2 separate regions of the Homo sapiens genome follow, and region 1 is linked to region 2. The links come from fine-mapping of genetic effects on plasma protein levels. Region 2 holds a variant in brackets. A gene starts in the other region. All regions are shown on their forward strands. Region 1 holds the start of GFRA3 (GDNF family receptor alpha 3). Region 2 has its middle 420 kb from the start of ZFAT.

What was found. A credible set is the group of variants that fine-mapping cannot tell apart. PIP is the chance, under the fine-mapping model, that this variant and not a neighbour inherited with it causes the effect. Protein levels are from antibody-based Olink assays in UK Biobank. Linkage for the fine-mapping came from a reference panel and not from the study's own genotypes, which makes the PIPs less certain.
Region 1: GFRA3 starts here. The variant in region 2 is the best candidate, but not a certain one, in a credible set for the plasma level of the GFRA3 protein (UK Biobank, PIP 0.60).

The regions. Positions count from the first base shown.
Region 1 is chr5:138,273,502-138,289,597 of GRCh38, forward strand. It overlaps GFRA3 (GDNF family receptor alpha 3), which reads right to left and starts at 1,120. Exons shown (of 8, transcript NM_001496.4): 1 at 833-1,120. The coding sequence starts at 923. It overlaps CDC25C (cell division cycle 25C), which reads right to left. Exons shown (of 14, transcript NM_001790.5): 10 at 16,000-16,062; 11 at 13,668-13,766; 12 at 12,996-13,129; 13 at 12,521-12,632; 14 at 11,768-12,340. The coding sequence ends at 12,191. RefSeq lists silencers at 843-1,032, 1,123-1,212.
Region 2 is chr8:134,281,320-134,297,493 of GRCh38, forward strand. No RefSeq gene overlaps it. Among named protein-coding and RNA genes, the nearest start is that of ZFAT, 420 kb to the right of the region's middle. The variant A/G (reference allele first, on the strand shown) is at 9,394.

The sequences.
Region 1 (16,096 bases), not on the chromosome of region 2:
TGGACAGACCAGGGTTTTTCCTCCTTCCTTCCATATCTGTCTCAAGGCAGCATTTCTACAGCACTGCGTTGTGGACTGAGGTCTCAGGGCAGTGTGGTGGTCTCTCTGTCTCAGGAGTCCCTCCATTCAGTCTCTGGGCAGGAGCCGCATAATAAGATTCCACACACCCATACCACTCACGAAGGCCATGGGCCTTCCAGGGATCTCGGATCCCAGGCTGTTCTTCCTTGGGGGAGTGGCCTGGTTCTAAAACCAGGCCTTGAACTACATCTACAAAACATCTATTGTGGATTATTTATTATCCAAGGGGCAAGCCACTGTGCTAGACGGCTTGCAAGGCCTGCTATTGTAGAAGGTTATGAAACAAGTCAGTTTTAACGAACTTCTTTTTCTTCACCTGTACCTAGTTTCTTCCTCAGTCCTTAAAGCAGATGGAAGAGTTAAAGCCCACGTGGAGCAAATGACACTCTGTTTCTGATCTGATTCTCCCCGCCTCTTAGAGACGCTGTCTTGGTAGTGACCTGGCTGTGGGTTGTTCTGTGACTGTGTAGACCTACCTCAAAAGAGGGAAGAGGGGGGAAAAAGGGGCGAGGAGGAGATGCTTGGGTGGCCAGGCCATTGCTGGCACTCAGTCTATCTCAGTTCGTACACTGTGTTAGGTGTGACCCCAGCCCCTTGCAGGCACCCTGGGCTTCCTGCTCCAGTTCCCCTTGTTCGGCTCGGATGCACCGGGAGGCTGCTGCGCCCTCTCCGGACAGGTGCCCCGGGCCTCGCCTACACCTCACCTCCCCCTCCCACTGTACCCCCGGCCGGTGCGCGCTCTGACACTCACCGGCTGCGAGAGGCAGCGGCGACGGCGGCAGCAGCAGCAGCAACATCAGGACTACGGGCGGCAGCGGTCGCGGGTTCAGGGGGCGCACCATGGCGAGCTGTAGGCGCCGGGCTCCGCGCTCCCCTCGCTCCTCCCCTGGAGCTCTGAGAGCGGGGCTCCCTCGACCGGCACCTCCCGCCCCCGCCTCCCGCCCTCCAGCGCGACGCACACACTCTCCCACCAGGGTCCTGGGCGCCGCCCTCCAACTCCGAAGCGCGCGTCCACACCACGCGCCTCCAGCGCTGGTCCGAGGGACCGCGGGGGTGGGGGCGGGGGAGGGCCGGCGCCCCGGGAGCCGCCGGGCTTGGTGCGGAAGAGGTTGCTCTTTCCGAGGCGGCCCACCTGCTGTCTGACAAGTTCGACTAGCAAGACATTGTGGAAGCTGCCGCTGGAAACTCGCCATCTAGGAGAACCAAATATTTCTCCAAGAAAAGCACCCTTTCTCACTTTCTGGATCCCACTCACCCACACATCAAAGAACAGACACCACCACAAAAGAGATTTTGTAACAAAACTTGAACAAGCCAACACAAGGGCACTTGCATTTCTAGTATTTTTCTTAGAATTTGCACATCTATGATCTCGTTTTTTCCTCTCCTAAGTGTCTTCTAGGGTAAGATTGGGTGGTTATTAAGCTCAAGATGCTGCAAAGATGGGTCGCAGACAGGTGGAATGGCTTTGCTGGGGGAGCAGACCTGGGGCATTAGATTCCAAAATTCAGCCCCGATGGTGTCGTGAGGGAAGATGGAAGATTAAACTCTCCACTAAATAGCAGAGATTTCCTTGGACCAAAGCTCACTGAGGAAGGTGCCTGGAGAGACCATTTAGGAGCCCATCCTTTTCACATGATGAGACTTTCGGAGAGCAAGCTACTCTATCAGGATTAAACAACTAGGTAGAAACACATCTGTGCCCAGAACACAGGACGTCTACCCATAAGGATAAGGGTATTTATTGGGCCTGGGCCTGATTCCCACAAGATCCCAGGATAAAGCCAGAAGCAGAATGGCTTGGAAGAATGAGAACTAAGCAGCGCATAGAAAGAGAGAAGGAGAAGAGGGTGATGAAAGGAAGTGGAGGGTTTCATCCCCTAACCCTCTAACTTGACCCCCTCCTTACTTCCACAGCCAGCCTGGCAGAGGGCCAGCAGGGAGTACTGAGAATCGCAATATAAACCTCTGAGATTTATTGGCTGCTGCTTCTGAATATGGCCATCCTGCTGTGGCCTCTGGGGGGCATTTGCCGATGTAATCAGCCCAGAAAGAGAGTCATTCCAGCTGGGGGTGTAAATCACCCTTGGCAAAGCTAGGAGAGAGACATGTGGCCCTAGATAAGGAAGGAGACTGATGTGGCCTCTGTGCCCTTCCCTCCCTTCTCCTGCCCAGGGGGTGCTGGTTCCTGAGCTGTAATGCACTTTAAATGGAGTTTGTCCTTCGTTTTAATCTATATCTGCCCTGCCAGTTTTACAGAAGAGCTGTAAAAGTGAACATCTGGCTACTCAGCTTTTGTACAAGGCCTGTTTTCCCCCAGCTCCACCCTATCTCCATGTGCCTTTCCCAAGCCCTCCTCTCCAGAAAGGTGAGGGAACATGAAGCTGGGGGGCTACCATTAAAGGCCCCATGATGTCAGGCCCTCTACCCCATTGCCAGAGAGAAATATGCTCCAGGCACCTCATTTTCTCTCACACCTGCTATTACAGGCAGACAATCGTTTTTTGGGTTTTTTTTTTTGAAACTGACAATACTTAAGAAAGGAATTTATAAAGCAAAATGTAACAATTTCAGGCTCTTTGGGATGATAGGAAAGGGCTGAGACCCATGAACCAACAAAGATGTGAGGTGGTCAAGGGGTGTCTCCTCTGCCCTCCCCCTCCTCCAGCCCAAGCCAAATCATGTTATGGGCAGGAAGAGGGTTTGGGAAAGGAAGTTTGCTCAGGGTGCCTACTCTGATAGATACTCAGTGTCTATTCCAGGGCTGTCCCCACAGAATAGACCAAGAATGCAGTATCAAGCTGACGGGCTGGGAGCAATGACCAATCCCACCTGTAACAGGCCAGCCTTTTCATGAGAGAAAATAAAGTGTCTGGTGCATATTTCTGTCTGGGTACAGGGGTGGAGAGCCTCATATCATTGGGCCTTTAATGAGGATTGGAGAAGCTCTGCAAATAAATATGACTCCAAGACTAATATTGACAGCCCTCCAGCACACCCTCTCCACCAACCATGTCCTCTGTGACTGCCAACACCTGCTAGATAAGCAGCATTGCCCCTTGTGGACAATGACAAATGAGCCAGTCCTTTCTACAGAGATGATGTTACTCATCCATCATTCAATTCAATAATGTGTTTTGAGAATGATTATGAGCCCAGCTTTATGCTAGGTGCAAAATGATTAAGACACAAATCCTGCTCGGGGAGGGTGTTACAATCCACTGATTGCAACTCAAATGCCCAAAGACCCTGTATCTTATTCCACTTTCACTTGTAATCTCAATTTTCTCCTCTTATGGTCAGATTACATGGATTCTACCTTCTCTCAAGTCCTCTCTCTCTCCATTGAGCTTTAATTCCTGCTGCTATCCTAATCCAGGATGTTAGCAGTATAATAAATAGTTAAGACCACAAGCTTTACAGACTGCCTAGATTCAAATGCCGACACTAGCTGGATGACCTTGGGCAAGTCACTTAATTTTTCTGTGCTTCCATTTCTTCACCTGTAAAATTAAGGATAATAGTATCTATTTCACATTGTGAGGATTAAATGAGTATAGTATTTAAATGAAGGTGTAGGCTGGGCGCGGTGGCTCACGCCTGTAATCCCAGCACTTTGGGAGGCCAAGGTGGGCGGATCACGAGGTCAGGAGTTCAAGACCAGCCTGGCCAATATGATGAAACCCCATCTCTACTAAAATTACAAAGATTAGCCGGGCATGGTGGCACATGCCTGTATTCCCAGCTACTCGGGAGGCTCAGTGGGGCAGAAGAATTGCTTGAACCCAGGAGGCGGAGGTTGCAGTGAGCCAAGATCATGCTATTGCACTCCAGCCTGGGCAGTAGAGCGAGACTCCGACTCAAAAAAAAAAAAAGAAAAGAAAAAAAAAGGTGTAGCATTATACCTGGCATATAGCAAGCATCGAATAAATATCATCCCAGGTAGCATGCAGGAGTTAATTATTCTGTGTGTGAACTTGGCCAGACCCCACCACCCGACCTGCTGATTTGGAGCTGGAAGTGGCACTTTTTGCTCCTTTTGCTGAATATACTACTAGACCAGAGTGCTTGTAGGGATGGAAACAAAAAGAGCCATTTTTTATTTTTCTACCTTGTCAATTTCTTGAGGGCAGGGACTGTGTCATATTTTAACAACTGTGATACTCAGAATTGGCAACTCCAGATGCATATGTTTAAAGGAATTGGTGTTTCCTTAACCTATGCCTGAACAGAACAGGGAGAGAATCCCCCATGCCTCCTACTTTATACTCCTGATAAAGAAAGGGAAATATTCCTCCTTAATATAGTTTGGATATTTGTCCCCACCCAAATCTCATGATGAAATGTAATCCCTAATGTTGGAGGTGGGGCCTGGTGGAGGTGTCTGGATCATGGGGGTGGATCCTTCATGAATGGCTTGGGCCATTCTCTTGGGGATAAGTGAGCTGTCACTGAGTTCACAAGAGATCCAGTCATTTAAAAGTGTGTGGCACCTCCTCCCATAACTCCCTCCCTCTCTTGCTCCTGCTCTGGATATGTGACATGTCTGCTTCTCCTTCACCTTCTGACATGATTGTAAGCTTCCAGAGGCCTACCCAGGAGCTGAGCAGATGCCAACACCATGCTTCCCATAAAGCCTGCAGAACCATGAGCTAATTAAGCTTCTTTTCCTTATAAATTGTTCAGTCTCCCAGGCAAGCATGGTGGTCAGCCAGGCATGGTGGTGTCGGCCTGTAGTCCCAGCTACTTGGGAGGCTAAGGCAGAGGTTGCAGTGAGCCAAGATCATGCCACCACACTATAGCCTGGGTGACACAGTGAGACCCTGTCTCCAAAAAAAAAAAAAAGCCGGGCGCGGTGGCTCACGCCTGTAATCCCAGCACTTTGGGAGGCCGAGATGGGCGGATCATGAGGTCAGGAGATTGAGACCATCCTGGCTAACACGGTGAAACCCCATCTCTACTAAAAATGAAAAAAAAAAATTAGCCTGACGTGGTGGCGGGCACCTGTAGTCCCAGCTACTCGGGAGGCTGAGGCAGGAGAATGGCATGAACCCAGGAGGCAGAGCTTGCAGTGAGCTGAGATCATGCCACTGCACTCCAGCAGGGGTGACAGAGCAAGACTCTGTCTCAAAAAAAAAAAAAATTACCCAGTCTCAGGTATTTTTTTTCTTTTTCTTTCTTCCTTTTTTTTTTTTTTTTTTTGAGACAGGGTCTCACTCTACTGCCCAGGCTGGAGCACAGTGGTGCAATCATGGCTCACCACAGCCTCAACTTCACATGCTCTAGTGATCCTCCCACTTCAGCCTCTCAAGTAGGTGGGACTACAGGTGCACACCACCACACCTGGCTAATTTTTAAAAATTATTCGTAGAAGGCCAGACGCAGTGGCTCATGCCTGTAATCCCAGCACTTTGAGAAGCCAAGGCAGGTGGATCACCTGAGGTCAGGAGTTTGGGACTAGCTTGACCAACATGGTGAAACCCTGTCTCTATTAAAAATACAAAAAAATTAGCCAGGCATGGTGGCAGGCGCCTGTAATCCCAGCTACTTGGGAGGCTGAGACAGGAGAATCACTTGAACCCGGGAGGCGGAGGTTGCAGTAAGCCAAGATTGTGCCATTGCACTCCAGCCTGGGCAACAAGAGCAAAACTCCATTTTTTTTTTTTGAGACGGAGTTTCGCTCTTGTTGCCCAGGCTGGAGTGCAACGGCGCGATCTCGGCTCACTGCAACCTCCGCCTCCCAGCTCTCAGGTTCAAGTGATTCTCCTGTCTCAGCCTCCCAGGTAGCTGGGATTACAGGCACATGCCACCATGCCCGGCTAATTTTTGTATTTTTAGTAGAGATGGGGTTTCATCATATTGGTCAGGCTGGTCTCGAACTCCTGACCTCAGGTGAGCCGCCCGCCTTGGCCTCCCAAAGTGCTGGGATTACAGGCGTGAGCCACCGCACCCAGCGAAACTCCATCTTAAAAAAAAAAAATTCTTCGTAAAGACAGGGTTTCACCATGTTGCCCAGATGGTCTCAAACTCCTAGGCTCAAGTGATCCTCCAGCCTCAGTTTCCCAGTGTTAGGATTACAGGGTATTTCTTTATAGCAAAGGAAGAATGGCTTAATACATTCCCTTCTCTATGGCAGAGGTCACCCAGGTCCTGGGCTGAGATTGACAAGAAGCAATTGCAAAAAAAAAATTTATGTATATTTTTTGAGACAGAGTCTCCCTCTGTCACTTAGGTTGGAGTGCAGTGGTGCAATCTCAGCTCACTGCAACCTCCACCTCCCGGGTTCAAGCAATCCTCCCACCTCAGCCTCCTGAGTAGCTGGGACTACAGACATGCACCACTGCACCTGGCTAATTCTTAAATTTTCTGTAGAGACAGAGGTCTGACTATATTGCCCAGGCTGGTCTCAAACTCCTGGATTCAAGCAATCCTCCCACCTCAGCCTCCCAAAGTACTGGGATTATAGGCTTAAGCCACCGCACCTAGCCCAAGAAGCAGGTTTTTGTTTGTTTTTGATACAGAGTCTTGCTGTTGTCACCCAGGCTGGAGTGCAATGGTGTGATCTTAGCTCACTGCAACCTCCACCTCCCAGGTTCAAGTGATTCTCCTGCCTCAGCCTCCTGGTAGCTGGAATTACAGGTGCCTGCCACTACTCCTGGCTAATTTTTTTTTTTTTTTTTTTTGAGACAGAGTCTCCGTCACCAGGCTGGAGTGCAGTGGCCCAATCTTGGCTCACTGCAACCTCCACTTCCTGGGTTCAAGCACTTCTCCTGCCTCAGCCTCCCGAGTAGCTGGGTATTTTTAATAAAGACGGGGTTTCACCATGTTGGCCAGGATGGTCTCGATCTCCTGACCTCGTGATCTGCCCACCTTGGCCTCCCAAAGTGCTGGGATTACAGGTGTGAGCCATCATGCCTGGCCTGTTTGTATTTTTAGTAGAGATGGGGTTTCACCACATTGGCCAGGCTCCTCTCAAACTCTTGACCTCAGGTGATCCACCCTCCTCAGGCTCCCAAAGTGTTGGGATTATAGGCATGAGCCACAGCGCCCAGCCTCGAGAAGCAGTTTTTAGCTCAAAACATTTCTGTTCAATATTTCTTTACCTCCTGATGAATAAATACCAGTGCAAGGACACCAATGCCGAGCACACCCCCTACATAGCCTCATACTGAGGTCTCTGGGCTGGGGTTTTAGTGCCTGCTCATATCCTTATCTCTCAAGCCAAAGCAACCCTTATGGCCCTAAATTCTCAAGAGCTTACCATTGAGGCTCTTATAGATTTAACACCCAATACAGGGCCAACTCTGGAAAGGCACAGTGGTTTTTTTTTTTTAGACAGGGTCTTGCTGTCATCCAGGCTAGAGTATAGTGGATGGATCATAGTTCAATGCAACCTCAACCTCCTGGGCTGAAGCCATCCTCCTGCCTGACCCTCCCCAGTAGCTATGACTACAAGTGTGCACCACCATGCCCAGCTAAGTTGATTTTTATTCTATAGAGATGGGGTCTTGCTATGTTGCCCAGGCTGGTCTTAAACTCCTGGTCTCAAGGGATCCTCCCACTTTGGCCTCTTAAAGTGCTAGGATTACAGATGTGAGTCACTGCACCTGGCCAGGCACACTGTTCTTTGATGAAGGTTTGGTAACAGCAAAATCCATGAAGTGGACAGGCTCTGGAGCCATACTGTCTTGGGTCAAATCCCTACTCCACCATTAATTAGCTTTGAGATCTTATTACTTGACTAGGTGCAGTGGCTCACGCCTGTAATCTCAGCACTTTGGGAGGCTCCAATTGAAGACTAGAGCTCAGATTGCCTCCATGAAAGTTAGAAGGGAGAGGGCTGGGTGCGGTGGCTCACAACTGTAATCCCAGCACTTTGGGAGGCTGAGGCCGATGGATCATGAGGCCAGGAGTTCGAGACCAGCCTGGCCAACATGGTGAAACCCCTTCTCTACTAAAGATACAAAAAATTAGCCGGGCATGGTGGTACATGCCAGTAGTCCCAGCTACTCAGGAGGCTGAGGCAGAATCGCTTGAACCTGGGAGGCAGAGGTTGCAGTGAGCCGAGATCGCGCCACTACACTCCAGGTTGTTAACAGAGCGAGACTGTGTCTCCAAAAAAAAAAAAAAAATTCAAATTAGAAAAAAAAATGCAGGCCAGGCGCGGTGGCTCACGCCTGTAATCCCAGCACTTTGGGAGGCCGAGGTGGGCGGATCATGAGGTCAGGAGATCAAGACCATCCTGGCTAACATGGTGAAACCCCGTCTTAACTAAAAAATAAAAAAAAAATTAGCCGGGCATGGTGGTGGGTGCCTGTAGTCCCAGCTACTCGGGAGGCTGAGGCAGGAGAATGGTGTGAACCCAGGAGGCGGAGCTTACAGTGAGCCGAGTTCACGCCACTGCACTCCAGCCTGGGCGACAGAGTGAGACTCCGTCTCAAAAAAAAAAAAAAAAAAAAAGAAAAGAAAAAAATACAAAAATTATCCAGGTGTGGTGGCAGATGCCTGTAGTCCCAGCTACTTGGGAAGCTGAGGTGAGAGGATTGCTTGAGCCTAGGAGGTGGAAGTTTCAGTGAGCTGAGATTGTACCACTGCACTCCAGCCTGGGCAACAAGTGAGACCCTGTCTCAAAAAAAAATAAAATAAAATAAAAAAGAGTTAATCCCTCTGTTCCTCAATTTCTTTATCTTCATAAAGAAATGCTCATAATAATGAATACCTCTTTCACAGGCTTGTGAAAATTAAATTAGTGTGTATTTATATAGGAGTTTATATATATATATATATATATATATATATATATATATATATATGAGTTTAGAGATAGCCTTGTATACAGTAAGCACCTGAAAAATGTTAGCTACTATTGTTATTCCTGAAAATAACATGAATCAAATCATATAGTCCCTATACAATGAGAGGATATTACAAGAAATCAGTGGGCTTATATTAGGCCAGGCGTGGTGGCTCACGCCTGTAATCCCAGCACTTTGGGAGGCCGATGTGGGTGGATCACGAGGTCAGGAGTTCAAGACTAGCCTGACCAACATGGTGAAACCCTGTCTCTACTAAAAATACAAAAATTAGCCAGGCGTGGTGGTGCATGCCTGTAATCCCAGCTACTCGGGAGGCTGAGGCAGGAGAATTGCTTGAACCCGGGAGGTGGAGGTTGCAGTGAGCTGAGATCGCGCCACTGCACTTCAGCCTGGTGACAGAGCAAGACTCTGTCTCAAATAAAATAAAATAAAATAAAAAATACCAAAAAATGTTGACTTGGGTGAAAATACAATTTTCCATGAGGAAGATAATTAAGCCTTAGTGTTTTGTTTTGCAACTCAGATTTTCCACTTAAGACTACTGACTAGTGGGCACATGTACATCAATCTCTATCTATGTTGGGACTTGGTTCTAGCCTTCTGGGGAGAATTATCAGGAAATGGAAATGACCCACTAGGGTAGGCAGTGAGTTAAGGACCTCTCCTCACACTTCGAAGAGGTGCTTCAAGCAGTTTTCTTTTCTGGCTACTAGGAATTCCTATAGGGGCACGTGTGTGGGTGGGGCAGAGGAGCAGCATCTTTCCTTTGGCCATCTCCACCTAACGTAGCAGCAGCTTTTCTCTTTCCCCTAGACCTTCTGGGCTTTGAGTTCAAGGGATTAGGGAGAAGGCCACAGAGACAGCTTCCTTTTTGACAGACAGGCAGTAGCTAGGAATGGAAGCTACAGACTTCAGCAGGATGGCTTGGAGAAAACAGCAGTGCCCTCTGCTGTGAAGCATGCATGTGACACTCTAGGGCAAGAGCATGTGCAAACCTTGTCAAATAAAAAAATTAAAAGCCAGTCCAACCACTCAGGCACGTGCATGGGCCGCCCTATGGCTACAACCCCCCTTCCCTCCCACTCACTTTAAAAAAGTGTCTCTGTTCCAGAGCCTGGGAAGAGGGTATGTTTGTCTCTGTTCTGTCTCAGCCTAGGCTGTAGAGGGCTTCGTCCTGTTCCGTCCTGGGCTATCAGTCCTACTAGGTTAATACCAGAGAATGACAATGTTCAGTCAGTTCTACTGCCACCCAAGACCAAGTAGTGCCACACCTTACTACAGATAAAGGCCTATTCATATTAAAAAGCTCCAAGAAAGGAAACCCTGGCATACTGCAGAAGAGTACAGTTAAAAAATCTTCCTGAAGTCTAATGGATCTTGCTTTGTTTTATTCCTATCTTCATATATCACAAATCTCTACTTCCAACCATCCTAAATCCTAAAACTTGTCTTTGTGAGACGTGAAATGGAGTGGAGAAAAGACTTAAAAGTCAAAACCCCCCTAAGGCTATAGATAGGGAACTTTTTTTTTTTTTTTTTGAGATGGAGTCTTGCTTTGACACCCAGGCCGGAGTGCAGTGAAAAATCTTGTTCACTGCAACATCTGCCTCCCAAGTTGAAGTGATTATCCTGCCTCAGTCTCCCGAATAGCTGGGATTACAGGCAGCCACCACGATGCCTGGCTAATTTTTGTATTTTTAGTATAGACGAGGTTTTGCCATGTTAGCCAGGGTGGTCTTGAACTCCTGACCTCAGGTGTTCCGCCAGCCTCAGCCTCCCAAAGTGCTGGGATTACAGGTGTGAGCCACTGCCAAGAGGGAACCTTTGAGCCCAGCTGAGATCTGTCATTTGCCTTAGAGAATGTCTAGATACCACATGCTGCTGAGTCTGTGGTGCACTTTTAGTAACGCATACCATGGAATGATCTAGGAAAGGAAAGCCCAGGACATTGCTGAAGAAAACTGTTTGAAAGGCTTACCTTAATTCCAGAGCATTGGTTCATTTTTTTTTTGAGATGGAGTCTTACTCTGTTGCCCAGGCTAGAGTGCAGTGGATTTTGGCTCACTGCAACCTCCACCTCCTGAGTTCATGCAATTCTCCTGCCTCAGCCACCCTAGTAGCTGGGATTACAGGTGTGTGCCACCATGCCTGGTTAATTTTTGTATTTTTTTTAGTAGAGATGGGGTTTCACCATGTTGGTCAGGCTGGTCTCGAACTTCTGACGTCAAGTGATCTGCCTGCCTTGGCCTCCCAAAGTGCTGGGATTACTGAGCACTGGTTCTTAAGCCTTACCATGTATTAGAATTAACTGAAAAGGGAGATTTTTAAAACCCAGATTTCTGTGCCCTAACCTCACAAGTTCTGATTTAAGAGGTCTGGGGTGAGGCCTGAACATCTGTATTTCAAACAAGTTCAGATGATGTTGATGATCTAGGGTCCAAACTTTGAGAATTACTGGTTGTTTGGTATTTGTTTTTTGAGACAGTCTCTCTCTGTTGCCCAGGCTGGAGTGCGGTGGCACGATCTCATTGCAACCTTCACCTCCTGAGTTCAAGCGATTCTCCTGCATCAGCTTCCTGAGTAGCTGGGACTACAGGCACACGCCACCATGCCTGGCTAATTTTTGTATTTTTAGTAGAGATAGGGTCTCACCATGTTGGCCTCGAACTCCTGACCTGAAGTGATCCACCCGCCTCGGCCTCCCAAAGTGCCAGGATTACAGGTGTGAGCCACGGCCTAAGAATTACTGGTTTAGAGAAAAGCATGTTGGCCTCAGCTATGAATAAAGATAGTATGTCTGAAGTAGTCTAACTTGGTGATCTCCTCTGTAGACAGATCTTCTAGGAGCAGGCTAGGCTCACAATCACACCTCTCATTCTGTAGTGTTTATTTTTCCATTTTTAAAAAAGAAAGAGGGGGAAACAAAGAAGGAAAATACAAAGAAAGAAGGTAGACAACGCTCTTGCATAGCCCGAAGCCCAGAGAGAAAGAGTTGGCTGGCTTGTGAGAAGACATGAGGAGTTGGGAAAAGGAATGCCAGAGTTCCCTGAACCAATACAAATCTCTATGCAACTCAAGGCTGCCTTATAGAGCCAGCTCCAGGACTCTGCCACCAGCTTTCAGCTCTGCTGAAACCTAATCCATTCCCAGGCCTGGATACAAGTTGGTAGCCTGTTGGTTTGCAGAGACATCTTTTAATAATCTTGGGTTTGGCCATCCAGAAGGCCTCTTTCTGCTCAGGGTTTCTGCAGTGTCTTTTGGTGACTTGTTAGCAGCCAGTGGCTGGAATGTTATCATGGGCTCATGTCCTTCACCAGAAGGGCAATCTGCTCCCGCAGCTGCCGCTCCCCTTCCTGCACTTTGCTCTGGCTTCGACACCTCAGCAACTCAGTCTTGTGGTCCTGATGATGCATAGGGCAGTAGCTCTGTGGTTCACACAGTTCCTGAAAGGTAAGGAACAGAGTAAGGGATTCTCTAGACTCCTGAACTCTACCTATGAAGGATAATAGAGATGCTGCTGCTGGCAGTGGCTAAGGAGGAGCAGCAGTTTCTTCTCTGAAGGCTTTGCAGGCCCTGGGAGTTGAGTTGTTAAAGTTTGGCTCCCCGCATGCCCCACCCTTTACCATATATTCTGGAAAGAAGTCTCTGTAGCCGCCTTTAAGGATATATAGCTCTGGGTAGTACAATGCAGGATACTGGTTCAGAGACCTGTCCTCTTCACGCAGACAGCGGCACCTTTAGAGAGAACCCAGAGATGGGTGGGGTGGAAAGAAACAAGGTCAGGATCCCAGGGGCCATTCACTGGGGAGGGGGGAGAGGAGTAGACTATTGCCAACCTCAAAAAGGACTTTCCAATCTCCCTGTGTTTGCAAAAAAAGGTCCAAGTAGTACCACCCTTCCTCCTTTCCTCCACTGCAGCCTCATTCTCAATCCCTTTTCCTTTATTGTTTCAAACTTTTCAATTTTAGAAACGTCTTCCTTCAACCTCCCTAACATTCTTCAAACTGTAGAATCCAGTCAGTCTCTGTCTGAACTGGTGTGGGAAGTCCAACTCAAAATCCATTTCCATCACCCGCCAGACCCCATTTAGACACTCACATTCGGGGGCCCCTCTCTGAGGAGAATTCACAGTGGAACACGATGATTATTCTCTTCTGGGTGTCCAAAGGGACGATGGGCTTCTTCAGAAAGAAGTTAAACAGTTCTTCCTGACTATATAAGTTTAAGGCTCCCTGTAGAAGAAGAATTTTAGTAAGTATTTCCTCAGGGGCTTATAGACAGTGCCAATACTTAGAAATGACTGAGACGCCAACCTGGGATAATGTGGACCAGAAAAGCTGGACTATAAGCACCTTTAGGGCAGGGGTCTAAGTATATCTCTGTATATACCCTGAACGCCTGGCATAGAGCTTGTAGATGGTCAATAAATGTTTATAGACCTGAACCACTGGAAGTATAGAGATCACTGCGAGGAATGTTCATGAATAGTAAGTGTTTGCAAAGTGCTTCAGTCCTTGGATTAATGTTTTTATTTCTAGGTAGGACCCCTTGGCTCCTACAGAAAAGAGGGAGATAGATCTAGGAGGGAAAGGGAAAGTAACCTGCTTAAGGTATACAGAATTAAAACAATGAGGACCTCAGCCTTGAGGTGCTTCAAATATGTAATCTTTGTCCTGACTCTAGAGTTCATAGACCCCTTTGTCCACAGACTCTTCTCAATAAAGAGTTATCTCCAGCCCTCCCCTACTAATGGCCACAATGTCGTCTCACCTGGATGTGTCCTCCCAGATACTCATATGGATAGCGACAATCAATGACATAAAACTTCTCAATCAGACCCTGGAACTTCCCCGACAGTAAGGCAGCCACCTGGACAGAAACAATGACTGAATATTCTGCTCACTGCCACTCTGAGGGAGAGAAGGGTCAATGACACAGTTCCTTACAAGCATACTCCTGTTCTGTCCACTGTATGTCCAGCCTCCAAAGTCACCCCATATTTGATATGTGGCAATGATTCAGCCCCACTCCACAAAAGAGAATGAAACAGGAAGTGGCCCTTTTAGAGAACCAAAATAGCTGGCACTGACAAGATACCAAGGAAAACCATATTCAGGCTACCCATCTGGGGATAGGCATGGCTGGACTCAGGAGATGCCCAAGGACTTCTGCAGTGGCAGAGGCAGCAGCTAGAGAGCTTGAAATTGCAGGAAGAAATGCAAAATGGTTCCCTACCCACCATCAAAAAGGAAGAAAGTAAGTCTTTCAGGAAAGGATATGGAAGGGAAAGGTTGATACCTAAAGGAAGGAAGAAACTGAAGCTACTTGTAGGAGTGCAAATTGGTTCAGCCTTTCTGAAGGGAACTTTGTAAATACATATACAAATAAATGTAATCACACTTTGACTCAGCAATTTCTAACATCTTAAGTAAACAGGAAAAGTACACAAAGATGTAGGCACAATTATATTCATCTCAGCATTGTTTTATATTATCAATATATTAGAAATAACTTCAATATTCAATAATAGGGGTTTGGTAAAATAAATTGTACATGTCAGTAGAATAGAGCGGCATTATATAGCCATTAAAATGATAATATAGATACCTTATTGATATAGAAAGATGTCTATAATGTCTCACTAAGCAAATTGCAATACTATACGTTCATCATGATCCTTTTTTTTTGTTTTTTGAGATGGAATTTCGCCCTTGTTGCCCAGGCTGGAGTACAATGGTGCCATCTTGGCTCACCGCAACCTCTGCCTCCCGGGTTCAAGCAATTCTCCTGCCTCAGCCTCCCGAGTAGCTGGGATTACAGGCATGCGCTACCACACCCAGCTAATTTTATATTTTTAGTAGAGACGGGGTTTCTCCATGTTGGTCAGACTCGTCTCGAACTCCCAACCTCAGGTGATTCGCCTGCCTTGGCCTCTCAAAGTGCTGGGATTACAGGTGTGAGCTGTGCTAGGCCCATGATCCCATTTCTATAAAACATATGCTAGAATAAAATCTGGGGCTGGGCGCAGTGGCTCACACCTGTAATCCCAGCACTTTGGGAGGCTGAGGAGGGTGGATCACCAGAGGACAGGAGTTTGAAACCAGCCTGACCAACATAGTAAAACCCCGTCTCTACTAAAAATACAAAAATTAGTCGGTGTGATGGCTGGCACCTGTAATCCCAGCTACTTGGGAGGCTGAGGCAGGAGAATGACCTCCGGGAGGCAGAGGTTGCAGCAAGCCGAGATTGTGCCATTGCACTCCAGCCTGGGCAACAAGAGCGAAACTCCATGTCTAAAAATAAAATAAAATCTGGAAGGCCATAGGAAAATATGACTAGTGGTTATCTCTGGTGATGAGATTGTGGGTATGGTGACCAAATAATTTTTGTACAAACTGGGAGACTTTTGAGAATGAAAGCAAACACTATTAATAATTACCCTCACTAATAGATGAAAATGGGATTGTAAAATGTAAACGAGGGTGCATGGTCACCCTAATTGAGACCTTAATTGAGACCATTTCTTGTGTGTGATTTTTTATTTTCCTTTCTTTCTCCCTTTTTTCTTAAGTAATTATTATTTTTTGAGACAGTCTCGCTGTGTCGCCCAGGCTGGAGTACAGTGGCACGATCTCTGCTCACTGCAACCTCCCCAACTGGGGTTCAAGCAATTCTTGTGCTTCAGCCTCCCAAGTAGCTGGGATTATAGGCACACATTACCACGCCTGGTTAATTTTTTTGTATTTTTATTAGAGATGGGGTTTCGCCATGTTGGCCAGGGTGGTCTCGAATTCCCTGCCTCAAGTGCCTGAGATCTGCCTGCCTCAGCCTCCCAAAATGCTAGGATTTCAGGCGTGAGCCACCATGCCTGACCCCTCCCTTTTTCCCTTTTACAAAAACTATGTATCATTTGTTTAACTAAAAACGAAGGAGAGAGAAGAATGGGGAAAAAAATGAGTCCTTCAATATAACTTCAGTTGAATAAGGAGCCTGTGTGAGTGAACACAGTGAAAGAAATACAAATGGAAATGGGCATTTTAGGGACAGAAGAGACCAGATGGTAGCTTATGTAACCAGTTACCATCTCCAGAAATCTGCTTACTGTTTCTGGGTTGACATACTTCAGATCTTGGTGTTTCCCTGACACGGTTGGCAGCGCACATACCTAGAAATACACAAGAGCTGAAATAACAGCAAGT
Region 2 (16,174 bases):
AGTTGGTTGTGGGAGTGGGCCCTGCAGCCTGCATAGGACTGGGCTCACTTCTGCTGGATCTGGGATTTAATGGGAGAGGGAACTCAGAAAGGAAACAGACTGCTGATGCTGTTAAATACATTATTCAGTGTGTTTGTTATGCAGACTATTTGTGCCTACAAAGATTTTGTGGTGCCTTCATCAGATGAAGACCAAAAAGTGAAGAAAATCTAAATATCAGGAAATCAACAGATTCTACAAGATGGTGTTCCCTGTACCTTCTAACAGACAACCTGTATATAGCAAGACTATCATGAGGTGGAGCGCTCATTACGTTTGAGTCAGGGCAGCTGCATGCATGACATATCGGAGGAGATGTTTAGTAACATGGGAAGGAGCAAACCTTGGCACCCCTTGGGAGCCAGACCAGGAAGTGCAGAGGAGGCAGCTCTTGGCCACCACTGTGTTCATGAGCTGTCTCTACCCATGTGACTTTCTTTTTCAACACTGGTATGGACTCTAGAGGCTAACTCTGGAAGCCCTAGAATTGTCCAAATACAAAAGGCTGGAATAAGTCCCCAGTTGTATGATTTTAGCTGAGTTATTTAAACTTTTGAAGCTTCAGTTTTGTCTACTCCAAAATAAGATTAATAATAGTGGGTGCTGTTGCAGGGATTAAATCACATAGTGTACACTAGATACTTAGGGGGGCACTCAATAAGTGGAAAGTAATAACTTTTGTTAATGAATGTTTGCTGTTGCTATTAATGAAGTTCTCTACAAGAAATCTTGTGCTTGTGTGTGTGTGTGTGTGTGTGTGTGTGCATGGTTGCATGGATGTATCACTGATAATAGACCAATATTACAATGTACTGTTGTCTAATTTTCACTGGAAAGCCTTCATGAAGGAAGTAGAATTTAATCTGGGCTTTCAAAGAAAAATTGACATTGATCAGAGAAGAAAAGGGTGAAGGGTTTTCCAGACAGAGACACCTGCATAGACAAAGCACAAAATTGCCTGATATATGGTAACCCATGGAGCCTGACACCTCTGTGAGGGAATTGCCTTAGCCTCTGGCTGTCTTAGAAGTGATGCTTTCTTTTCTAAATGACAGAATAAAGGCTCAGCAGGTGCCACATTTTATATCTCTATTTGAGAAACTCCAGTTTATCTCTTCTGACCACAGCAGTTCAGTCCAAATGGCCACATCATGGACACCCACAACCAAGTCTAATCTGTGTCCCTCCCTGGTGCCCAGATAGATCAGGCTGTAAGAAACCTTCTGGAAAAAAAAAAAACAATTCTGAAGGAAAAACTCTTGACCTTGATCTGCAAACACCTGGGTCACAGTGACGAAGTACGATTTGGGGAACAGCTGGCACCTCCACTTCCTCTCTGAATGTTAAACTTCAACTACTCCTTCAGGCTCCAGATTCAGAGTGCCCCAATTACAGAGATGACTGAAAGTAAAACCGATGTGCGGCATTGGGAGGGTGCTGTGTATGTCCATGCACCAGGACTACTAGAAAGTGGGAGGAGTCTCCTCTGCTCCCACACAGAACGAAGTGTGGCTTCAGGACAGTGGAACATCCAGAACAATCTGAAATATACTCAGGGAGGCACCAAGAAACTAGCATTATTAGGGGAAAAAAAGGACAAAAGCCAAGCACCAGCCCAGCATCTCTAGGGACAGTAGCAGGCACACCAGCAGGGACTAAGCAATGCCAGCAGCCAGCAAGGGTGCAGCAGAGACAGCAGCCCTCCAGGAGCACCAGGAGCACCAACTGGCAGCAGGCACCATGGTGATGTTATAGGATCTTTGGGGTATTGTTTTTCTGGCCAGAAACCCATGGCCAGAGGCATCTTTGCCCAAGTTTTGCTCAGGCCCATTTGGGCTTGTTTTGACCACTTGGCTTGGCAGGCTGTGCTTGGCTCATGCTACTGGCCTGGGTCTCATGCCTCCCAAGAGAAAGTCAAGCATGGAATGGCGTGGGGAATGTGAGTGAGCATGGGGCCCAGCCACTGTGCACAGTCAGACATGCCAGCTGCTGCAGCAGGGCAGGCAGCTCCAGGTGCCAGCATGGATGCCGGCTCTGTGAGGCTGCAGCTGGACCAGGTGCACCACAAGCAGCTTCCATGACTGGAACAAGTGGTGCCTGGAAGCTTGCAGATGCCAGGAACCACAGGCCCTCAAAGAGGGAGTCACAGCCCTGGATCCAGGAGCTCCCAGGTCTTGGAGGGGCACAGTTTTTTTTTTTCCTTATCTTCACCCACAATGTGGTGAGCAAGGGGCATGTCTCAGCCCTGTTTGTGACACAGCTCTTTTAACCTCACCATTTGGTGAATCCCAAGTTCTTGTCCTGTGGCCAGGAAGAATGACGTATGCAGACAAATTAAGGGAGAGCAAGACAATGAGGAGCTTTATTGAACAATAGAAAAGCTCAGAGGACACCCTCAGGGGAAGCTCCTTTCCACAGCCAGGGCATGCCAATGAGTGTTTAGCTCCTAGAAGAGAGGTTATCTCCTCTCTGCTAGGCAATTTGTCCCAACAGGTGTCCAGCTATCAGCAGATAGGGTAGCTGCTCCTCTCTGAAGCTGATCATCCCATTGTCTGCACAACTCTCAGCAGAGAGGAGGCCCTGGAGTGGGTTGCTCCTCTCTGCAGTTGATCATTCTGACTTCTGCTCAGCTCTGGCTGAGCCCGGGGCTTTTATGGGCCTCAGAGGGGAGGAAGAGCACATCCATTTGTCCATGGTTGGCTATGAGTGGGCCCAGAAAAGACACCTCAAGTTCCTACTTTGATCTGTGGGACTGGCAGCATGGCCCCCAGCTTTCAGGTCCTCCCTGGCCTGAAGGTTGGGCTTCACCAGGAAACCTCCCACTTCTGCCCAGGAACCTGTCTGCCTTCTGCTGCTATTTATGGTGCCCAGGCTGTAGGTGCCAAGGGATGCCTGTGGGCTGGTGCTGAACTGCCATCAGCTCCCCCTAGGGTTCCCTCCTATGCTTTTTGGTGCCCAAAGTCCAGAGGGGGCCAAGGTGGCAGGGTGCTGGCATGTCAGCATTGCCCTGAGCATGTATGTACCCAGCCGGGCCATGACAGTGCCCAGGCGTGGCCCCCACTTTGCTCCAAGGTCAGAGCCAGTGCCAATAGCAGGGAGAAGCCAGACAGCAGGAGCAGGTACTTCTAAGCCTGCAAGAGTGGGGGTGCCTTCCAGGGCCCCCAAGAGTGCAGAGATGCCTGAGTCTTTAGCCACAGTCTGGATGGCTGCAGCTGTGCCAGTGGGGCAGGGCTTCTGCCTGCTCTATGGAGCAGGAGGCCCAAGTCTGCAGCTGTGGTTTGGGCAGCTGCAACTATACCCAGGAGGGTGGGGTTCCTGCCTGCTCCCAGGCCCCAAGAGCACAAGGATGCCCAGGTCTGCAGCCATGGCTTGGGCAGCGGCAGCAACACCCAGGGAGTTCCCTCCCCAACTCAGAAGGGTGGGGCTCCCGCTTATCACCAGCTTCTGCCAGCTCCCACCGGCTCCATGGAGCATGCAGCTCTGACTGTGTCTCTCTGCTGCAGCTGAAGTAATGGCAGTGGTTGCTCCAGATGGCCTGCCACTGCCATCAGTGAGAAGCTCGCTGGGCTCAGTGGACACTGGAGGGCCCAGCAGTAGGTGTGGCCAGAGGAGAGAAACTGGCAATACCAGTGGTATTTGAGGACTTAGTCCTTCCTTTGGGTATTCTGAATAACCCAGGAGGTGAGGACACAGAGTTCTAAAAATCCTTCTGGTGTGAGTGACAGCCAGAATATGAGTAATTATTGTTATTTATTAATATTATTTAATAATGAAGAAGAATATTCTCATCCATTTACTTATTCAACAAATGCTCATTGAGCATCCACCAGTGCCAGACACTATGCTGAGCACTGGGAACATGTTGGTGGATGAAAGAGACACAACCCTTTCCTTCATTAATGTACAGACCAGTGGGAAAGACAGACACTAACCAAAAAAAAAAAAAAAAAAAAAAAAAAAAACAAAGAAATGAGCAACTAATCACAAATAGATGATGTCAAGTTACAGAAAAATTAACCAAGATGTGCAAGATGTGGTAATGGAGAATAAAGAAGAAGGGGTGTCTACTTAGACTGAATGGAGAGGATCTATCCAAAAGGCGACATTTTAGATTAATTATGAAACACTGAAAAGCAGCCATCATGAAAACCTCAGGGGAAAGAGAATTCCAGGAGGCCTTCAGGTGGGAAAGATGCATTTCAGGATTGCCAACATGGCTGGCAACAGGGAGTGGCCATTTTACCTACAGGCTGGTATAACCTAGAGAAGAAAAGAATGCAATGAAATACTAACAATGTCCCTCTAATAACAATGGCAACTCCCACTTATGCAGTCCTTTCTGTTTCACAATGCATTTCCTATTTACTTTTTCAGTTCCCAGTCCACACTCCTGTAAATGATAAAGCCAAGGCTAATGTATCCATTCATATGAGACAACTGAGGGCTGTAAAATGTGACTTACCCAAAACATAATGGTGGAGATGCCAGGCAGTTGACTTGGGTCTCTAAAATTTCAGTCCTTACTCTTCCCCAAGTCTTGTTGCCTTGACTCACTGGGGTCATAATTTGATGACACAGGTCCCACATTTTAATCCTTGCCTTCAATAAGTCATGGGATGCCCATGCAAGCCACAGCTCCTTGGTGGAGACTCTTACCTCTGGACAAACAGGACCTGTGAAAAGCTCCTGTCTCCTACTCTGGATACTTCCTGTAAACAGGACTCATTTTCAGTGTGACTCTAATAATCAAGAAAATAAATTAGATCCCAGAATCTCTCTCACTTTGGATAATAGCTCGTTCCAGGAAGTCATTAATGCAGTAAATCAAACTCACAACTGTTGACACCATGAAAGCACATTGTTTACCTTCCTTTGATTCAGCTGAGTATCAATTAGCTCAGTGATATTTACATAAATATCTCGATTTAGAGGGTGGAATTGTCCATCTGCTTCTGGAAAGATTTAATTAGGTCTGTGTTGCTAGAGAAGAAATTAATCCTTTTCAACATTAACCTTTTCAACTAATATATGTTTTGCGTGTATTGTGTAACATGCCTTGTTATGTAAATTGGACAAACTGAAATATTTCAGGCTGGTGAAATGATGTCTTTTAAACTGAAAATATATCTCTCTTTCCAAATCTTGAATGCAAGTGCATCGTTTTGTGCTTTCATATATACAGTCCTTCTTGGTGAGGGTTCTTTCAATCCAACGTCTTGAAGGCTTGTCTTCAACGTTGTATATGCTCTCCAGTCTGCAGAGGATATTGGTGGCATTCTCTGAACCTCACTCCTGCTGGGCCTCTCACCTTCACATTTTCTTCCTCGAGCTGTGAGTCTTTCCTGGGATCCCTGAGTAAGATCAGGACCCCACGTCATTTGTGTCCTTTTCCATAAGGGAACTCCTCACTTGAAGTGGCTCTTTTATGTGTGTCTTACCCACAGAAGTGACCACTCTAGGAATATAAAGATCGTGGATTCCTTGTCTGCTGCCATTTGCCTTGTGCCTAGCAAATTGCACATTTCATAAAAGACTCTCACTAAATGTATGTTGAAGGAATGAATGAGCAAAACCAGAATCATCAGGTAACAGTTTCACTGTGATCTTACAGCTCACCACCCAGCTCACAGAAGCAAACATTTTGTTAAAGGTATGGATATTATTAATACAAAAGTCAAAATGGGTTTAAATGTAAAGCATCCTCCCTTCCTTTTATCTACACTGACATGAACAGGTGCTCCTGCTTCCAGATTATCCCCTTTCATGAACCCTGTACAGCCAGGTGAGCTCACTGAGGACTCTTATTTTGCTCAATCCAAGCCCTGCAAGGTCTTACTGTTCAAGAAAAAGGTCTCTTCATCTTCATTGCTTGAAATCTTCATCTCTTCTCCGTTGTCTATGATCAAGTGTTTCTCACTTCTTAGAAGCTTTCCATGAGATCCAAATGTTTTCATATAACTTCTCAAAAGCCTCCACTCAATCCAAGGTAGGTAGGATACTCGTAATAATCATAGTCACCACTTATCAGATCCCTACTCTATACCAGGCACTTCTCTGGATCCTTCCTACATAAATCCCTAAGCTTACAAAACACTGAAATTTAGGCATCACTGCCCATGTTTCCAGGTGGCAAAACAAAGACTAAGAGAGGAATGTGATTGCCCAGTCACACAGCAAGTAGGGTAGAGCCTGGATTTTTAAACTCAGATCTATCTACCTCAACAGCCTTTGTCTGCCCTTAGAGCATCCTGTCTTCAGGGTCCCTGCGAACCAAAGCACCAGTGCTGAGTAAAGCATTAGGTCTTCGGTTACAACTCTGTTAACCCAACTGACCAGGATTAAAATGGCTCAGAATAGGTGATCTCAAAAGATGTGACTCTGTTTGCATCATTGCCTCTATAATAAATCAACCCTCTGTAAATTGGTTAACAAAATATGGACATATAAAGCAAACAAAGATCAGTAAACTTCTTCTGTGAGGAACCAGATAGTAAATATTTTTGGCTTTGTAGGCCATACAATCTCTGTCGTGACTTCTTAACTCTGCCACCGTAGAATGCAGCCATAGACAAAACATAATGAATGGATACAATTCTGTTACAATACAACTGTATTTACAATAGGAGGCAGGATAAATTTGGCCCACTGATTTGCTAACCTCTGAAACAATGGGAAGGTAGATGGTGTTTTTTTACCACTCTACATTAAGAATACAATTTAATCCTCATGTTAATGTTTTAAAGGAGGTTGAGTATTGTAGGGAGACCCCCTGAAACTATTGCTATGGAATAAAAGATGAAATGCTCCTGATTATTGTAAATACAAAATTGCATGCAGGATTGTGTAAAGATAACGCCAGGTTGGACTGCCAGAACGAGCCAACAGCACGTGATGTGCTTCCCCCTGCAGAGAGCCTATGACTGGACGTGCAGTCAGGAAAGTTTCGCATCACCAAGATTCCTATCCCAGAAAAGCAGATGTTCATAGCTCTGGGAATGGAATGCGACCCTTGTGGAGAGCCTATAAGTGGACGCATGGAGGGAGCCTGTCCATATGGATAAGATAGGGCTATAAACGCCCTCATTTTGCCGCGGCTCTTCTAGGCCTCTTTAGGGTTAATGCATACTCCCTTCTGAGAATTTCTGGTCTGACCAGTTGTCTAGCTGCACGTCCTGTTTCCATGGATTATTTGTAACCAGCTTTTGTTGCAATTGTTACTGCTGATTAATATCTTGCTAATCATAGGTTATGGAAAGACTGTGTTTCTGTTCTAAGGCTCTGTTAGAAATTACTGATGGGCATACAATATTGTAAATTCTTATCTCTGTATACTGTACTTCTACATACAAATGTACTGTACTTCCACATACAAATGTTATGTTAAAGAATTACTTCATCCCCATGTGACCATCTCACCTCATAATCAAATGACCCTAAATCCCTCACTAACCTACCCCTGCCCTCACTAAACTTAATAATAAATGCTGGTATATCCAGTGCATTGTTGGCACCGCGGGACCAGAAGGCGGTGACCCCCCGCCGGACCCAGCTTTCACTATCTTGTGTGTGTCTATTATTTCTCAACCTGCCGATCTGCCTGGGAACAAAGAGAGAGCCCCGTTGCATTGCAGGCTGCCGGCCAGATCCCACAATATCTCTGGCCAGATCCCGCAATAGAGTATTATCTCCATTTTAAAGACAAGAAAATTGAAGTCCCAGAGGACAAAGAGGTTGAGGTCCAAGGTTACACAGCTATTAAATGTGCATCTACAACCCCTGGGCACAAGAAGGTCTTCAGCTTCTCAGTCTGGGTTGTTGCTATTATTTGTTTGTTTCATTGTTTTTTCCTTTAAACTGAGAATAGCTTTAAATTGATATTGTGTCAGAATCCATAGCCCTTCAACTTCCCAATCTTCAAAGTGTCCCCTTTCCTTCTCCAAGCCCTTTCGCCTATGGTGAGGGCAGGAGATAGTAACCTGTTATACAAAGGTATAACAACCACTTTCTCTAAGAAAGTGACAAAGGTAACGTGTAATACAAAGGTAAAGCAACACTTTCTCTAAGAAAGTGACAAATGACAGCTCCAGGCAGAAAGGAACTGCCTGGCACGTAGCACGTGATCAATAGTTCCATATTGAATGATTTAAGTGGATGAGTGAAATTGACAGAACATGAATTTTGTTGCCTTGGGTTATGGCAAATTATTAGACAATTAATGGGACTTTGGGTCAGACCTACCTCCTCAAAGTCCTGATCTTACCACTTATTAAACAAATAACCTAGGAAAAGTTACTTAGCATTGGTGAACCTCAGTTTCCTCATCTGTAAGAACACCAACAATGCTAGTACCACTTTAATAAGTTGTTATGAGGATTAAATAAAATAATTCATGTAAGATACTTAACTCCTAACTCAACAAGTGGCATCAATGTGAAGGCTATGTTTGGCACTGTTACTTACTGCATTTGCATTCTGAGCTCTCACTGGCTTCTATATCCATCATTTCCCATCCTAGAGATAAGAACCATGAACACTGGTTAAGGATACTAGGTATAATATATTAAATCACTAAATATGTTTGTGTGAGAATAGCTGTATCTATCACCAAATGCATCCTCAAAGACCAAAATTCTAACTTTAAAAATCTCAGTAAAAAATTATGCCAATATTGGAATTAAAAGAATGCAAAAAGATGGACGCATACCAACGTAGAGACAAAAGGGGAACATTAACAAATACAAACAGTTTTATTTACCTGGCATGATGAGATATGTTTTTTCCATTTTTTGTTTGTTTTTATGTTAGCCACAAGGTTACTTATGAAATAAGAAAAAGTAACGAAGAAAAAATTCAATGAAATTACATTTAAAAGCCAATGATAGCAGGAAAAACTTTGCCGTGTTCTAAAAACTGAAATTACTTTTGTTAACCTAAGCATTCATGAGATCACAGCTTCGTTAACTTGACTACAGAGTTTTTTAGTTACTTTTTCTTAAAAATCTCATGAATTTCTGCTTTACTGCTTGAGATCCATACAACAGACTACTTGGCTGGTTTCCTTTTACTTGCCTCCCATGTTTATTACTGATTCCCATTCAACAGCAGAACAGTGAAACAATAGGGCTATTCATAGGAAACACTGATGATTATTTTTATGAATTACGTGTGTCCCGTCAGATGAACTCCATTAGAACTTCCCAGAACAGTACAGATGGAAGGTTCTCAGGCCCAAGGTCATCCACTTGTTATTCCAAATAACCAGGCACCTCATTGACAATTAAGCAACACGCCTTGAGATTTCTAAGAGTTCTCTTGTTTCACAAAATTTCTTATTCCCACAAAGACCTTTAGAGA[A/G]GTATTCTACGTCATTCCCCTTTGGCCCCAGTACTTACTTGTTCCCAAAACAGCATCCTATATGCAGTCAGCAAAGCTGGGTTTGCATCTACTTCTGCCGTTTATTAACCATGTGACCTTGGATAAAACGCTTAATTTCTCTCAGTTTTAATTATGTTAACAGCCCTATCCACCTCCCCAATATCAAGTATATAACATTTTTCTACCATAATTCTATTTTTTCCTAAAACACAAACTGAGCACTTACTAGGTACCAGACCTTCTGATAGGTATTTAGGACCCGAAAAGGAAAGACACAGGATCTGTATCATTAGAGAAGACAGACACACAGATGATAAAAGTATAGGACACTGTGAGACCGCAGTGGGCATGTTGTGGGGTGGGGCACCCATCCATCCTCAGGGCATAAAAGGCTTCAAAAGACGTGATATTTCCATTCACTCTTGGATAAGAGGGACGGAGACAGGAAGGACAGTCTAATTAGTGGAAAGAGCATGGGGAAAGATACCACCACGTCAACAAGGCCAGCACATCTGGGGAAATGTGCTGCGACTCATCAGGGCTGGAGTCCAAGGGAGCATGAGGGGAGGAGGCAGGCAGGATAAATATAAAACTAGAAGGGAAACAATCACATTGATTATTGAGAATTTGTTGGTAACACTAATTAAAATAATCCTTAACATCATTGAGCTTTTGTTCCTGATTAGGTATTCCACAAATTCTTACATTCTCATTTATATCATTACCACAATCCTATGAGGTAGGTGCCATGACTATTTCCATCTTTCAGATGAACCAACAGAGGCCTAGAGGGTTTAAGCACAACAGATGACCAATTCAGGACTCTAACTCAGTTCTGTCTGATGCCACAGTCTCTGCTACTCCTAACCAATGAGTTCTCCTGCCCCAGCTGAGGGTCTGGGATTTATTGCATGGTCAGTGAGGGCCTGTGTTGGATAGACTATAGGGGGACCCCATGACCCCCACCTCTTGGTAGTTGCCTATGTAATTCCTCCTATGTAATCATCTCTCTTGAATATAGGTTGGCCTAATGACCTTTCTCTAACTGACGGATTACAGAAAAAGCAATGAAATATCAATTTCATAATAGAAAACTGTGATGTCCCTCTTGCTAGTAGGCTCTTCCTTGTTGACTGTGATGAAGTAAGAGACCATGTTGGAAAGCCCCATGAGGCAAAGAACTGAGGGCAGTTTCCACTTAACAACAATGAACATAATCTCTCAAACAGCTCTCCGAAAGCCGAATGTTGCCAACAATTTGAGTGAACTTGGAAGTAGGCCCCTCCCCCGTCAACTTTTTAGTGGAGACCCAGCCCTGGACAACTTGACTGAAGACTTGTGAGAGACCCTGACACAGGGGTCTCTAGAAAAGCAGTGTCCAGGTTCCTGCCTCACATAACGGTGAGATGATGAACATGAGCTGTTTTAAGTCACTAATTTGTAATGATTTGTGACACAGCAATCTATAAATAGCACAGAAACTTTGAAGGGTTTAAGCATAGGAATGATAAAAAATTGATCTATGTTTTATAAAGTCAGTTTTGTCATCAGGGCACAGAGTAGATTAGAGGAAGATAAGGAGGAGAGATTGGCTAAGAGGCTATTTCAAGGCAAGACATGATGGTGACCTAAATTAAGGCAGCGACAAAGGGAAGGGAGGAAGAATAGGGGAAGTTACAGAAGAGATATTGGAGGTAGATTCAGCAGGACATTAGATCCAACTTGATATATGGAAAAAGGGGAAGGGAGGGAGCATTGAGTTTAAACACAATGGGAGTCACTGCATCAGCTTCACCCAGAGTTGTAGACCTTACTGCTGTCAGCAGCTACTTGGAGCAGCAGCCTGACCTTCATCAATACCAACAACAGAGGATCCACTGAACACCTATATGGGACAAGGGAATTTCTTAGGCCATTTGGGTACCAAATTCTAAAAGCCTCATGCTGAGAAAATTTGACACTCTTTAAGACCACAATAAGAGAATCATCCTCTTTGAAATTCAGCCCAGACAGGAGTCTTGGCATCAGGACACTACATCTAAATGCCCCCTCAATGAAGCAGTTCACTTTGGAGAGAACCAGAGGCAAGTAAATGGTATCTTCGAAGGTGAAGATGCACCAAGTGCCTCCATTCCAGGAGGACATGCAGCTGAGAGGATGGCTTCATGATCTTAGCCATTCACTAAATTGTGTTGCCTCCTTACTATTGCAACTTCTTTACTCAAAGCAACCATGCTTATGGCTATGCAGAATTAATAGACCAAAATGAGGTAAGATCATTGAAAAGGGAAAGGAACTTTTTACCTGACACCTGATCCTAACATGGTATAAGAACGGAACTTCAGAAAAGTTGAAATGTAATAGAATAGCTGGCATTTTTTCTGTTTTAAACTTTAGTACTAGCAAAGGGCCATCGTAAGCATCAGCTGACTTTATCCTTATGACACCACTTTGGAGTAAGTATTATCTATATCTTGCACATGAGAAAACTGAGTCTCAAAAAGATTTAAGTTTCCTTATGAATATTATTTTGCAGGGTGAATTATGCCTCCCTTACCACCAAAAAAAATTATCTGTCAAAGTCTTAACTTCCAGTATCTCAGATTGTGGCCATATTTGGAGATGGGGTCATTAAAGAGGTAATTAAGTTAAAATGAGGTCATTACAGTGGGCCGTAATCCAATCTGACTGTTGTCATTATTACTAAGACAGACACAGAAAGAAGGAAGACAATGTGATGACGTGAAGACACAAGGAGAAGACAGCCATCTACAAACCAAGGAAAGAGGACTTGGAAGAAATCAATCAATGTCAAAACCTTGATTTCAGACCTCTGCCCTCCAGAATTGTTAGAAAATAAATGTCTGTTGTTTAAACCACCCATGTGTGGTACTTTGTTATGGCAGCCCCAGCAAACTACTATAATTACAAAGCAATTAGGCTCTGAAACCAATCAAAGTACATCTCTGCCCATCAAAAATCCACCCAATTCTTCTATTAGAATCAAACATCAGCATTGGGGTGCAAAAAGGTACTGGTGGCTGGTCCCAAAACCCTAAATAGTACTGACCAATGAATTTCACCTTTGTAACCACTCAGCTTAGAATTGACAGCTGAGGGTCAGGACAGGACCCTAGAGCAGCAATACTTGAAGCATGGTCCCAGCATCACGCAGGAGCTTATTAGAAATTCAAACTCTCAGAGCTCACACCAGAATCTTTCATCTTGGTGCTCAGAAATAGATGTTTTAACAAGCTCTCTAGCTGAATCTTACATATCCTAAATTTTGAGAAGCCCTGGGCTGGCAGAAAGGTGTGTAAATAGTGTAATGTCCTCCTGCACCTCTGACTAACACTATGTGTTGGAGGTGGCCAGAGAGGGGCATGGGAGATGTCTTCTGAGGGGTGCTCAAGGCCGCAGTGATGAGGAAAGGATAAACACCTTATTTAGCAACAAATATTTATTGAGCATTTACTATGTTCCAGGAACTATGCAATATGCTGAGGAAGTAGAAAAAGACCAGACCCTCAAGTTTACAGTCTTACAGGTCATATCAAGTAAGGAGTGGAGGAGACAGGAGAGAGAGTGGCAAGGCCAGCAACTTCGAGGGTTAGGAGAGTTGACCACCCGGCCTGCAGAGTGCCCCCATGTGGTCCAGATGAGAGGTGCTGGGGGAGAAGTTGAGGTTCTTTCAGGCAATACCAAGGGCCCCTGCCTGGAGCAGCCCAGCCTACAGGTGCCAGGTTCATTACCCCAAGTCCACCAGTGGCTATAGCACCATGGCGGTGTTCTAATGAAAAATACCCTATCTCCATCACCTTTAAAGCCACCTTCCGGTGGTAGTCTTTCCAGATCTCCTCTATCATAGGTACTTCTCTACTTCCTCAGTATTTTGATGTATTGTCTTTAGTTTGCACTCCCTCTGAAGCAGACCCTAAGATAGAAATTTGGTACAGGTGCCTTATTTGGGAGAAATTTGGTACAGGAGTCCTATTTGGGAGATGATTCCAGCAAGCATGGTGCATGAGTGGTGAGGAGAGACAGTGATGAAAGGAAAGCTAATAAGGCTAGGGTAATGAGAAGGTCACCACTGTGAGCCACTGGGACTCAGTCCCACAGGGGACCCTCTGAGAGATTGCAAAGCACAGTTCAGAAGTGGACTCTCCAAAGGCAAGGAAACTGGAGTCCTTACCTAGCTCCTCTCCTCCCTCATGGGCTGAGAACTGCTTCAGGGCTTTAACCTTCCTCTCTTCCAACCTGTCCTGCACATGGACAAAGCATCCTCCTATGGGCCAAGGGACTCATGATGCCACAGACTGGGAAAGAAGGGTCTGCAGATGACCTCAGGGAAGCAGAGGGTGTCCACCAACAGTTATCCTACAAGACGCTTCACCAGAGCAGCTCTTATAGAACCACATACATGCATCTTGTATCTGAGCCCTGCAATATTGTCCCCACCAAGAAAATCTGCCATTCTCTCCTGTTCATGAGCCTCAAGTTGGGCAAAATATAGTGCTCTCTATTGGTTTCTTCAACCATCCTGTCTTATGGAATAAAGTATGTGTCTTCCAATGAGGCATGCAGTGGTAAAACACACAGAGGTACTATGATTCCAGGCAACAGCAAAGAAATGATGTTTCCATTCTCCTGCACAATGCTATTATGGTTAAATATAAGAAGATGTTGGTTAGGATTTTAAAATACTGAAAATTACTAGTGGATTCCAACCATTGCCTACAAAGACTCGCTAATGGTCTGTGGAAACATTGCAATCTCCTGGGGCACAGGGACCCTGTCTCGTTCCTCACTGCCTCCCCGGCACCCACAGCAGTGCCCACACAGAAGGGAAACACCCTGTCTGTGTGTAGTTTGCTGACTGAGATAGGCTTCCAAAGCTTTAAAGGGCTTTGGGTGTGCTTCATTCCACATAAGTCTAATTTCACTTAAAAATTCTGAGAGTTTCAAACAGACATGTTAAAAATTCACGCTTTCATTCACTTTTAATGAGAACTTTCTTTTTTCAAGAATCATCTGCAGGCTGCCTTACAAGTAATTCCACAGCCATCTGGAAGACTTGTGTTGCTACTTAGAAGTGCTAAAAGGGATATATAAGGAGGCTGGCTCCCGACAAAATTGGAAATGAGGGGAAGCTCGCTTCAGCAACACATGCCTCCCCTCCCTGCCTCCCGTGAGTGCCCAGAATCCTGGACACAGCCTACACACACGCCTCCAAGTCACACACATGTTTCAGAGATTTAAGTCACTGCTCTTCCCACAAATATATTTTGTTTTACCGAGAACACTAGAGGATGAAATACTTATTTTGCAAGAACAGTTCAATAATGGGAGCATTTCAGGCATCATGATTCCAGACAGGAAAGATAGCCAAGGACAAAATAATCTGTCCAGGTCTCTAGAAATCATAAGACATCAGCCAACTGCATCCATTCATAAGAGCAATGCTGGTTCCCAGTAACCCCGTTCAGTACACATCCTCAGAGCATTTTACTAGGTGTCAGGAACTGAAGAAATGAAAATGAGAAATCCATGACCCTACACATAAGAAGCACATACTCCAGGGGCATAGAAAGCTCATCACTCAGACATCCAAGTGTGCTGGGGAAAGAAATAATTACCTAGCTACAGATACATACTGAACTGTCTATTATAAGCATGGTGCTGTGGGAGGCCAGAAGAGAACACCTCAAGCTCTGCTGGGATGTCCGAGGAGTCTGGTGAAGCAGATAACAGTCAGGCTAAGCCTGAAGACCACAGGAGCACAGCAACAGGAGAGAAGGTAGAGAAAGCATCATTGACTCTACAGCTGCAAACCAGACAAGCAAAAGACTCGAAGGGAGGAATTGCAGGGCAGTTTGGAAGGACAGAGAATTGTGCCCAGTAGTTGGGTTCATCAGGATGAAAATTTAAAGGACCTCTGGTGGCTATTCTAGACAGGAAATTTAGTTTAGTAGTTAAGAGCTGATATTCCAGAAACAGACTACCATGGTTCAAAGTCCAGCTCAGCAATCCATCAACTATGTGACGCTAAGGAATCAACTTAACTCTTCTTTGCTCCAGTTTTCTCATCTTTAAAATGGGGTTTATAAGAGGCATTCTTTCTAAGATTGCTATGATGTTTAAATGAGCTAATGCATTTAAAGCACTTACGTTATGCCATGACATTGTTAGTTATCATTGCTATTATAAAGAATGTGGACAACAAAGGCAGTGCTTTGTTTCTGGTATCTGGAAAACTGGTATGTATGTATTTAGTTATTCATTCAACCAACAATCATTAAGGGTGGATGAGAGCCAAACACAGGTAGATGTGTCTCTTGCCCTCTAGAGGCTCATGGTCCCATCGCAGGAATACAAGCCTCGTTGGGTTATTATCAACGTCTGCAGAGGACAGTGGGAGGGCAAGCACAAAGCAAGGAATAAACTGGCTTGAAGTAGTCTGGAAAGGCTTTGATGTGAGCCTTGGTTTGTGGGCTGAGCTGTAGGATGTCCACATCCAAGTGTTTGTCCTACCAAGTGGGACCCTGTAACAACAGAACAGGGTGGGTCCCCTGTGAGCCCGGAATGAGCATGGAGATGGGTTAGGAAGGGATCCTGGTTGCTTGTCATCTCATATTTACCTGAAACACACCACGGCAGCAGAAGCAGCTGGTGAAAGCCCAAGGCCTTTCTGATTGGACAGTGCTGGTGCCAACACAGTGCTGGTGGAATATTTGGACTGGACTTCTGAAATTCTTGGATG